Linked DNA regions of Homo sapiens. The protein of the gene in region 2 purifies or fractionates together with the protein of the main gene of each other region. This does not show direct contact. Each region holds a gene or a part of one and is shown on either strand. Other genes may lie near its edges.

Region 1 (3,753 bases), on a different chromosome or scaffold from region 2:
TAATTTTTAAAAATTAAAGCAACAAAAGAACAATTAGTTTAGAAGTTTGGTCCTTACATTTAAAAAAAGAAGTAAATACAAGAAAACTAAGCATTACATGCCAGCAGTACATATTTATTATTATTCATGAATGGTGAAAAGACTTACAAGGCCCATTATTATGAGTATAACCACACATATGAAATATCACTTAGCGGCAACATGGGATGAAAAGGACAGTTATATATTTATATTAAAAAAATACACGTTTGCATTCAATGTTTGCCTAGAAAAAAAATACATGTACACACGCTCTTTCAAGTGCTCCCCATAAACTGCTATAAAAGCAGGAGGCATCAAGCTGTAGAAGTTCCAATATACATAACATGTTGAAATATCTCAAGCATAAAAACTGTACGTAACTTGCAAAAATAAAGTTCCTTTCTTCAAACATTTTGATCTGAGCTCAGGCAAAGCAAATAATGAACACCAATGATTTTTATACTATTTCACACAATTTAAAATAATCAACATGAAAAGGTCAACAGCTTCAAAAATCCTGAAAATATGGAGGTTACGAGAATGAACAATTTCATCTGAAAAGTCTACAGCAGATCTGCTTCATCCTGACTCTCAAATATTTAAGGATCATAATTTACTATACTCAAACTCCAAGTTTAGCCAGGACAAACAAAATGATAAAAAGAAAAATTACTGCAAACAGGGCATGACTGCCCTTTAGTTTCTTTAGACAATTTCACTAGTGCAAGAGCATCATTTACCTGAAAGATCCTAAGAGTCACAATTAAAGTACTCATACAAAACTATTTCCTTTGTTCTTTAAAAAGTGCCACATACTATACTTTTCATTTAAAAAAAAAAAAGAACCCAACACAAATAAACTAATGAAAGACCGTTTGTCTCCATCTCTTGTCAATGAGGAAAGGCCAAAGTGATTCTTTGATTCCAATTCGAAATGGTGTTCGTTGGCCAATGCCCAAGGTCTCCAATTTGGAGCAGTCAAGCTGAGCATTTCTCGGACGTTGTGCTCCTAGGACAGGGCTGTCAGTAATCTTTAAAGAAAGATAAACACAAAAAAATCAAAAGTAAGTGAAAGGCTATATTTTGAGGGCTTTGTTCCCCCTGACCTTTTTTTAAATATGTATATATTTTTAAACAGAGATGAGATCTCCCTCCATTGCCCAGGCTAGTCTCAAATTCCTGGGCTCAAGGGATCCTCCTGCGTCAGCCTCCCAAAGTGTTGGGATTACAGGCATGAGCCATTGTGCCTGGCCATTTTGAGGTTTTATATTTGCTACTTATTTTTGCTCTTAGTGTAAGAAATCTGATTTGATCATCCCTGGAAAAATAAACCAAATGCCTGTCATGATCAAGACAATAATACATTTTCTACAAACTTCAATACTCATGATCTTCTCTACAGATGATAATTTAGAGAAAAGTAGCACTATGAACAGCCAGCATACAAGCAAAGTTCACTTTGATTAGTACTGAGAAATGAAGTTACCCAACACAGCAATAATATATACCATAGCAATGGATCTAAAGGTTTTTACAGCCATGTACTTACAGGTCTTAAGTGACTGCTGGGGAGGTTGAAGGCATCTGCAATTGCACATGCCATTTCATACTTAGTCATCTGTTCATTGCCAGACCAGTGAAAGGTTCCCTTAATTGATGGATCCTAAGAACGATGACACAATAAATTCAATAGTTTCAACTTTTTGAGCTGAGTAGAATAGGTTTGACCAAAAAGCTTACTTAAAATAAGGTCCAGGAACTAAAAGGCAACCCTCTTTTTCTGGAAAGGTCTCCACAAGATATCTAAAATCAAATTCCTACTAATACTCTTAGCAAAACACTTAAAAGAGCAATTTCTAGAATTTAAACCTTAAGAATTTTTAAAATCAAAAAAAGGCTCCAATTTTACTTAATTAGTGGGAATATAAAAAAGCATTACAAATTTTTATGAAAACAGTACAATTTAATGAGTATTTTTAATTATCCCAAGCTACAACAAAAACTTAATAGAACCATTTTTCAAGTTGAGCTAAACTTTCTTAAATATTGTCATGTTATATATTACAAAATATAATTCTCATATATTAAAAAACTGTGGTCATCCTATTAATATTCTAAACTAAATCAGTCTCATCTTTCTTTGTATGGATATTATATTTAATACCAACTTTTTCAAATGTGCTGGGATTACAGGTGTGAGCCATCACGCCCAGCCCCCAAAGAGTATCTTCTTAAAAGACCTTAGATGATTATTTTGAAGTTTCCTAACACTTTGCAATAAAAGAAATGATGGGATCTATAGTACATAAGAAATAAATTCAAACAGAAGAGCATAATATTTTTATTCTTCATGAATACAGTGTATATGTAAACTACTTTTGTTTGGTCTCCTAGTTTTAAAAAAGCACTTTTGGCTTTCACTCAGTAACACTCCAAGTACAGCTGTGAAAGTTCAAGCATGGAAAAGACAAAGCGGACCTTCGCTAAGACAGGACTCAGGAATCCTTCTTACCAGCATTCTCTTCTCTGCTAGCTGCCGGCACACAGTGGCCACATCTTTGACATGTGTGGGGAACCTCTGCTGCCAGTGATCCATGTTTGCTGACTTGTTGCTGAACTGCACTTTATCAAACATAACAGTCACAGCACTTTCTTCGAGCTTTTCAACTTCCCCATACAGAATAGGAATCCTCAAAACAGCAGCTCCTAGAGAAGAATAAAAGCAAATAATTTAAAGCTGACTGATTCTTAAATTTTGATGTAAGATACAAGGGTGTGGATTTAAATAATATCAAAGTAGAAACCTTGCCTTTTAATTAAAATATACCAAAATGACACAGCTCACTTGTGACAACGCAATGTAAAAATATTCAAGGCCAGGCACAGTGACTCATGCCTATAATGCTAGCACTTTGGGAGGCCAAGGCAGAAGGATCACTTGAAGCCAGGAGTTCAAGATCAGCCCGGGCATCATAGCAAAACTCCGTCTCTACAAAAAATTAAAATGAAAATTAGCTGGGCATGGTGGCACATGCCTGTAGTCCCAGCTACTTGGGAGGCTGAGTAAGGCAAAAGGATCTCTTGAGCCTGAAGTTCAAGGTTGCAATGAGCTATGACTGCACCACTGTACTCCAGCCTGGGCAACAGAGTGAGACCCTGCCTCAAAAATAAAATTAAAAACAGTCAAAGGCTGAGTGCGGTGGGGCTCATGACTGTAATTCCAGCACTTGGGAGTCCAAGGCAGGAGGACTACTTGAGCCCAGGAGTTCGAGACCAGCGTGGACAACACAGTGAGACCTCGTCTCTACAAAATGTAAAAAAATTAGCCGTTCGTGGTGGGAGGATTGCTTAAGCCAAGGAGGTCAAGGCTATAGTGAGCTGTGTTCACCCTACTGCACTCCAGCCCAGGCGACTGAGACCCTGTCTCAAAAAAAAAAAAAAAAAAAAAAAAAAGAAAAAGGCAAAACCACATTTGTTAAGTATCTTCTGTCATTTGGACTAGTTTTTTTTATATATATAAATCCTACATTAATATGATCATTAAAAATAAAACTTATCATGACAACTGAATGCAATGAATAGTCTTTGACTGGATGCTAGATTAAAAAATAAAAGCAATAAAGGACATTTTTGGCATAAATGAGAAAATTCCTAAATAGATTTGTATTTGATTACAGTACCATATTAATGTTAAGTTTCCAAATGTATGATAACTGCACTGTAATTATGTGA
Region 2 (3,653 bases):
AATCCAACTGTAAGAGAAATGGCTAACTACCACATGTCCTCTTGATGAAATGTTTTTTATTTTTTTATTTTTTTTGAGACGGAGTTTTGCTCGTTTCCCAGCCTGGAGTGCAATGGCGCGATCTCGGCTCACCGCAACCTCCACCTCCCAGGTTCAAGCAATTCTCCTGCCTCAGCCTCCCGAGTACCTGGGATTACAGCCATGCGTCACCATGCCTGGCTAATTTTTTTTTTTTGTATTTTTAGTAGAGATGGGGTTTCTCCATGTTGGTCAGCCTGGTCTCAAACTCCTGACCTCAGGTGATCTGCCCACCTCGGCCTCCCAAAGTGCTGGGATTACAGGTGTGAGCCACCACGCCCGGCCTCTTGATGAAATGTTGTGCCACCATTACATGTTTTTCTACAGTGAACCATGTAATGTTTAAGAAAAAAAAAATCTAGTATGTAAATTACAACCACAAGGAATGGTGGAGATAAAAAGGCCATTCAGTATTTGTTATACAGTTAACATAGATCTGGCCATGTTCAAAGCGAGGCGTGTGTCAGCCTGCTGTGGGAGATGATGAATTATTTTTCCCTTAAAACATAAAAGAAATATATTTTTACTTTTATTTTTTATTTTATTTTATTTTTTTTGAGATGGGAGTCTCACTTTGTTGCTCAGGCTGGAGTGCAGTGGCGTGATCTTGGCTCACTGCAATCTCTGCCTCCCAGGTTCAAGCAGTTCTCCTGCCTCAGCCTCCTAAATAGCTGGGACTACAGCACCTGCCACCACACCCGGCTAATTTTTTTGTACTTTTAGTAGAGACTAAAAATACACCATGGTAGCCAGGCTGGTTTTGAACTCCTAACTTCAGGTGATCCGCCTGCCTTGGCCTCCCAGAGTGTGGGATTACAGGCATGAGCCACAGCGCCTGGCCTAGAAAGATATTAAACTACAGGTTAACATGAGAAAGTTTTTAAGTGTCAATAGTTGAACTAAATTTGTTAACAATCTGTATGATTATAACCAACAAAACCAAATATATGTAGAAAACAATATTGTAGAGTTGCAAATGCCAACACTGACTGAGGAGGTGGGGGAAGTAGGGTTAGCTGTGGGGAGTGAGGGTATTTTTTTCTTTTCCTTTTACCAAATTTTCTTTACTACCACTCATTTTTCTTTATTGCTTTAAAAATTATATATTTGTGCACATACATTTGATATGTCTTTCTAGACATAGAGGATAAGGATTTACATATCCTTATCCTCACCCACAATATACACACATTCCATGTTGTTGTTAATGGAACCATATAATTTAATCTTGGGGAGAAGAGAAATGATAAAAGTACTTTTCCAAAACTGCTTGCAAGAGAACATCTCAAAGGCTCTGGTTTTGGCTTTGAATTTTCTGTTAAGGATGTTTAACATGACGATAGCAGCTCAAAGGTCTGGTATGAAGGACAGGAACAAGGTAGCTGTTGTTCTTACAGCCCTGAAACATGTATCTGATGACATGAAGACTCACAAGAACCCTGCCCTGAAGGCTCAGAGTGGTCCAGTACGCAGTGGCCCCAAACCATTCTCTGCACCTAAACCCCAAACCAGCCCATCCCCCAAACGAGCCACAAAGAAGGAGCCAGCTGTACTTGAACTGGAGGGCAAGAAGTGGAGAGTGGTGAGTTAAAAATACCTAGACAGGGGCAGGTATTTTTATTATTTTATTTTTTTGAGATGGAGTTTCACTTTGTCGCCCAGGCTGGAGTGCAGTGGCGCGATTTCGGCTTACCGCAACCTCCGCCTCCCGGGGAAAAGGAGTAGGAACAGGAGGTTAAATGGAGCTTAGCTAGATGAGGGCAGAGTTCTGGCTTCAATTGCAAGAACAAAAAGTTTGGGATAGCCTGGTTATTTTTTGTTCGGTGTGTGCTTTGTGATGAGAATCCTGGGATCTCTCTCTAACAGGAAAATCAGGAAAATGTTTCCAACCTGGTGATTGAGGACACAGAGCTGAAACAGGTGGCTTACATATACAAGTGTGTCAACACGACATTGCAAATCAAGGGCAAAATTAACTCCATTACAGTAGGTGAGTCTTTGTCGCTGTCCCACGCAAGCCCCGTCCCAGAGCCCGAGAAGGCTAATACCATTTTACCTACCCTATCCTTAAAGATTCCTAAATGTATATTACTTTCCTTTAAAGTTACACGTTGACACACTCCCTTTCTTCTCCTAGATAACTGTAAGAAACTTGGCCTGGTATTCGATGACGTGGTGGGCATTGTGGAGATAATCAACAGTAAGGATGTCAAAGTTCAGGTAACTCGATATTTTGGCTCCTTCTTTTTGTCCCTGAGGAATTAATTCAAAGAGACATGGTAGACCCACAGATGTTGCTTTGGTGGGAATCTGATTCTACAAAGTCTGTAAGCTGAGCTGCTTTGGACGTGGCAGAAGAAGGGTTGGCTCTTCAAGCAAGTTCTTTTCAGGACCCATCCCAACCCACCCGAGTATCCAGTGTCTTGCGCATCTGTGAGCTTTTCATGTAGTTGCTGAGTCACGTGAAACAGGAAACCTTTTCCTGCGACTTACTGTTGTCCTTCCCAACCACTGGGACTCAGTTCTCTTTGTTTACTCTGCAGGTAATGGGTAAAGTGCCAACCATATCCATCAACAAAACAGATGGCTGCCATGCTTACCTGAGCAAGAATTCCCTGGATTGTGAAATAGTCAGTGCCAAATCTTCCGAGATGAATGTCCTCATTCCTACAGAAGGCGGTGACTTTGTAAGTTTCTTGATCTCTTTAGTATGATGTTAAAAACAGAAGGGACTGAAGATTTCTGGCATTGAAGAAAGCTATTTTATGAACATTCTGCACTGAGCAGGTAAAAACCCAATAATGCACACCAAAAGTACACAGAAATGAGGTAGTCCCATGTAGTGGAGCCCCAAAGGTAGGTGCTTTCTGCCTAAGTGGAGCTCAAGGTAGCAAAAAATAATGGGGATGAGCCATGGCACCTTGTCAGGCTGGTGCTATAAAGCCATATGTACTGTTATTTACACCCCATAGACTTAATAGTCTGTCCAAGATCGCTGAACACTAGAACATAGCATGGCTCTGTGGGTTTGTCTCTTGCTACATTGTACCGTGCTCCTGGGGTTAAGTGGAAGCAAGCATTGGGAGAAATGTGTGAGATTTAGCCCCAGCTGTTCTTTAGCTCAGATTTAAACCTGCTGTCTCTTCTTTATTTGCAGAATGAATTCCCAGTTCCTGAGCAGTTCAAGACCCTATGGAACGGGCAGAAGTTGGTCACCACAGTGACAGAAATTGCTGGATAAGCGAAGTGCCACTGGGTTCTTTGCCCTCCCTTCACACCATGGGATAAATCTGTATCAAGACGGTTCTTTTCTAGATTTCCTCTACCTTTTTGCTCTTAAAACTGCTTCTCTGCTCTGAGAAGCACAGCTACCTGCCTTCACTGAAATATACCTCAGGCTGAAATTTGGGGTGGGATAGCAGGTCAGTTGATCTTCTGCAGGAAGGTGCAGCTTTTCCATATCAGCTCAACCACGCCGCCAGTCCATTCTTAAGGAACTGCCGACTAGGACTGATGATGCATTTTAGCTTTGAGCTTTTGGGGGTTATTCTACCAACAAACAGTCCATTGGAAAG
Region 3 (3,653 bases), on a different chromosome or scaffold from region 2:
TCACACAAAGCACTATAAGAATATATTCCTCATATACTTTTTTTTTGAGACGGAGTTTTATTCTTATTGCCCAGGCTGGAGTGCAATGGTGCAATCTCAGGTCACTGCAACCTCTGCCTCCCAGGTGCAAGAGACTCTCCTGCCTCAGCCTCCCAAGTAGCTGGGATTACAGGTGCCTGCCACCATGCCCGGCTAATTTTGTATTTTAGCAGACACAGGGTTTCACCATGTTGGTCAGGCTGGTCTCAAACTCCTGACCTCAGGTGATCCACCCGCCTCAGCCTCCCAGAGTGCTGGGATTACAGGCATGAGCCACTGCGCCCGGCCCTCATATACATTTTTTATGAAATACCTTTTAAACATGCTCAAAGTGTGAATTAGGAAAGTGAAAGAAATAAAAGGTATCCAAATAAAAAATACGTAAAATTGTCTCTTTTTGCAGATGACATGATCTTATATATAGAAAATCCTAAAGACTCCACCAGAAAACCATTAGAATAAATTCAGCAAAATTACAAGATACAAAATCAACATACAAAAATCAATTGTGCTTCTATACACTAACAATGAACTATCCAAAAAAAAATTAAGAAAACAATTCTATTTAGAATAGAATGAAAAAGAATAAACTACTTAGGAATAAATTTAACAAGGAGAGGAACGATCAGTATGCTGAAAACTATAAAGCAGTGATTAAAAAAACTGAAGATTACACAAATAAATGGAAAGATATCCCATGTTCATAAATTGAGAGAATTAATATTGTTAAAAAGCCCATACCACCCAAAGTGTTCTGCAGATTCAATGCAATTTCTATCAAAACTCCAATGGCATTTTTCACAAAAATAGAAAAAAAAATTGTAAAATTTGGATGGAACAGCAAAAGACCCCAAGTAGCTACAGCAATTTTGCAAGAACAAACCTGGAAGCAGCCTACTTTGTAATTTCAAATTATATTACAAAGCTACAGTCATCACAACAGTGTTGTATCAGCATAGAAACACATACATAGACCAATGGAAAACAATAGAAAGCCCAGAAATAAACCCACACATGTCTGGCCAACTAATCTTTGACCAAGACCAAACAATGGGAAAGCACAGTCTTGTCAATAAATGGTGGTGGGAAAACTGGATATCCATGTGCAAAAAAATGAAATTGGATCTTTATCTTACAACACACACAAAAGTCAACTAAAAGCTGATTAAAGACTTAAATGTTAGCCCTGAAACACCAAGACTCCTAGAAAAAAACATAGGAGAAAAGCTCCATGACATTAGTCTTGGCAATGATTTTTTATGTGACACCAAGAAGACCAGCAATAAAAGCAAAAATAAGTAAGTGGGACTACATGCAACTAAAATGTTTCTATGTAACAAAGAAACAAGCAACAAAATGAAAAGGCAACCTACAGAATGGGAGAAAATATTTGCAGACCATCTGTCTGACAAGATGTTATTATCCAAAATATAAAAGGAACTCATACAACTCAACAACAAAAAAACAAATAACCCAATTAAAAAATGGGCAAGGGCCGGGCACAGTGGCTCATGTCTATAATCCCAGCACTTTGGGAGGCCAAGGAGGGCAGATCACCTGAGGTCAGGAGTTCAAAATCAGCCTGGCCAACAGGGCAAGGTGGCGGGTGCCTGTAGTCCCAGCTACTTGGGAGGCTGAGGCAGGAGAATCACTTGAACCCAGGAGGCAGAGTTTGCAGTGAGCCAAGATCACGCCACTGCACTCCAGCCTGAGTGACAAAGTGAGACTCTGTCTCAAAAGAAAAAAAAAGGATAAGGACCTTTTATATATCAAAACATTATGTGGTACACCTTAAATATATGCATTTCTTTTTTCTTCTGACACGCAGTTTTGCTCTTGTCATCCAGGCTGGAGTGTGATGGTGCGATCTCACCTCACCACAACCTCTGCCTCCCGGATTCAAGCAATTCTCCTGCCTCAGCCTCCTGAGTAGCTGGGATTACAGGCATGTGCCACCACGCCCAGCTAATTTTGTATTTTTAGTAGAGATGGGGTTTCTTCATGTTGGTCAGACTGGTCTCGAACCCCCAACCTCAGGTGATCCACGTGCCTCAGCCTCCCAAAGTGTTGGAATTACAGGCGTAAGCCACCACACCCAGCCAATATATGCAATTTTTATGTGTCAATAAAGGTGGAGAGAAATACATAAATAAATCAATGTGCTCAAAGTGTGCTTTATTTGGCAAAGAACTTCAGGTGTATTTAATTTTACTGTGTTTTATCACCATAAAAAAATAACATAAAAAGTACTCATCTGTTGACAGAAGTACACTGGGACAAGTCTGTCAATGGAAGCAGGGAAATACCAAAGATTCCACACCAGGTAGTAGGCACCATCCTAAGGACCTAGAACGCTACAGGTCATTTTGGCTTTAAAGACTTAGTCTTGCCGAAACTTTAAATTGTCAAATGACTGGCAACCATCAGGAAAATATTTCTTCCACACAGTTTATTCAGAAAAGCCTGGAATGCAGCACACACATAGAGTCAGTGGACACCTCTCCAGTGTAACCTGTTTCAAAGATCCCTCTGACTAAGTTATAATCCTGGGCTTATTTCCATCCACCACTCAACATATTAGCAAGTGTCTCTCCCACGGCCCAGCCACCAGGCTAACAATTAAAACCATTGTTTCAACTGACCTAACAAGACACTTGACAGGTTAAATCTACTAAATGCGCTCCAAGCTAAAAAAGATCCATTTTTGGAGTATTTATTTTGGACTCTGAGCTACTCTCCCCTTTCATTAGCCTGACAGAGATTTACTGTGCTCAAATAAGCTATCCTGAGTGTTACTAGCACTAGCCATATTAAGATTGATAAAACATCATGAGCAAGTAAGAGTTTACAAACATCGTGAGCCACCATGCCTGGCCTAGGTTGTATATACAATTCTTACATGAGGTTACATATACAGATTTACAAGTCTAAGGCAATTAATCATTCATTTTGAGCAACTAACACTTAAGCACTATTATCAAAGGAACTTACAACATACAGTGAAAATAATTTTAGCAGGATTTGATATCAACTAACAGGCATATGTAGCAACTGACCAAATTCAAAGACTCAGTTGGAGCTATCAACCAATCTGAAAGATCAGTTCCAGAAAACATGCAAATGGCTTGCTAAGCAGAATAATTTTTAAAATATACTCCTGTTGGCATAGTGCTTGCATCTTATAATTTCCCTAGGACTTGTTGAGCACCAATTATTCACCAGGCTCACTTCTTGGAAGTGTCACACCTTTAATTCATTTTTTGATCTCCCAAAAATTGTTCACAGTAGGTTTCAACATATGCTTGATGAATTTAATCTGATTACTTGTAGAGCTCTACACATTTTAATTCAGTGACTTTCTAAGGTCACTGCTCTAGCTCAAATCAGAGCGGACATTCTGTGAACTGAACCCTACTATAAGCCAGGCACCATGCAGCAGTGTGATGATGGATGGGGATGTGGTAACCCAAGGCAGATGTGGTAAGAGGGACAGGCAACAGGAAGAAAAGATAAAACTATTACCAAAACAATCAACGGGACTGTGCAGCTCACTGGATATTGTAAACAGAACCAGAGAAGATTTTAACTTGTATTTCCAAACATCTGGTGGAAAT

The links.
Region 1: the proteins of CAP1 (region 2) and MAT2B fractionate together in Homo sapiens (co-fractionation; one large-scale study listed by BioGRID). This does not show direct contact.
Region 3: the proteins of CAP1 (region 2) and ERO1A fractionate together in Homo sapiens (co-fractionation; one large-scale study listed by BioGRID). This does not show direct contact.

Annotation. Positions count from the first base shown.
Region 1 is NC_000005.10:163,515,492-163,519,244, reverse strand, and holds part of MAT2B (methionine adenosyltransferase 2 subunit beta), read right to left. Parts: intron 2,728-3,753; coding exon 2,534-2,727; intron 1,685-2,533; coding exon 1,571-1,684; intron 1,053-1,570; coding exon 882-1,052; 3' UTR 1-881.
Region 2 is NC_000001.11:40,068,215-40,071,867, forward strand, and holds part of CAP1 (adenylyl cyclase-associated protein 1), read left to right. Parts: intron 1-1,475; coding exon 1,476-1,660; intron 1,661-1,944; coding exon 1,945-2,068; intron 2,069-2,215; coding exon 2,216-2,298; intron 2,299-2,621; coding exon 2,622-2,765; intron 2,766-3,235; coding exon 3,236-3,319; 3' UTR 3,320-3,653. UniProt on the Homo sapiens protein: Directly regulates filament dynamics and has been implicated in a number of complex developmental and morphological processes, including mRNA localization and the establishment of cell polarity.
Region 3 is NC_000014.9:52,688,927-52,692,579, forward strand, and holds part of ERO1A (ERO1-like protein alpha isoform 2 precursor), read right to left. Parts: intron 1-3,653. UniProt on the Homo sapiens protein: Oxidoreductase involved in disulfide bond formation in the endoplasmic reticulum. Efficiently reoxidizes P4HB/PDI, the enzyme catalyzing protein disulfide formation, in order to allow P4HB to sustain additional rounds of disulfide formation.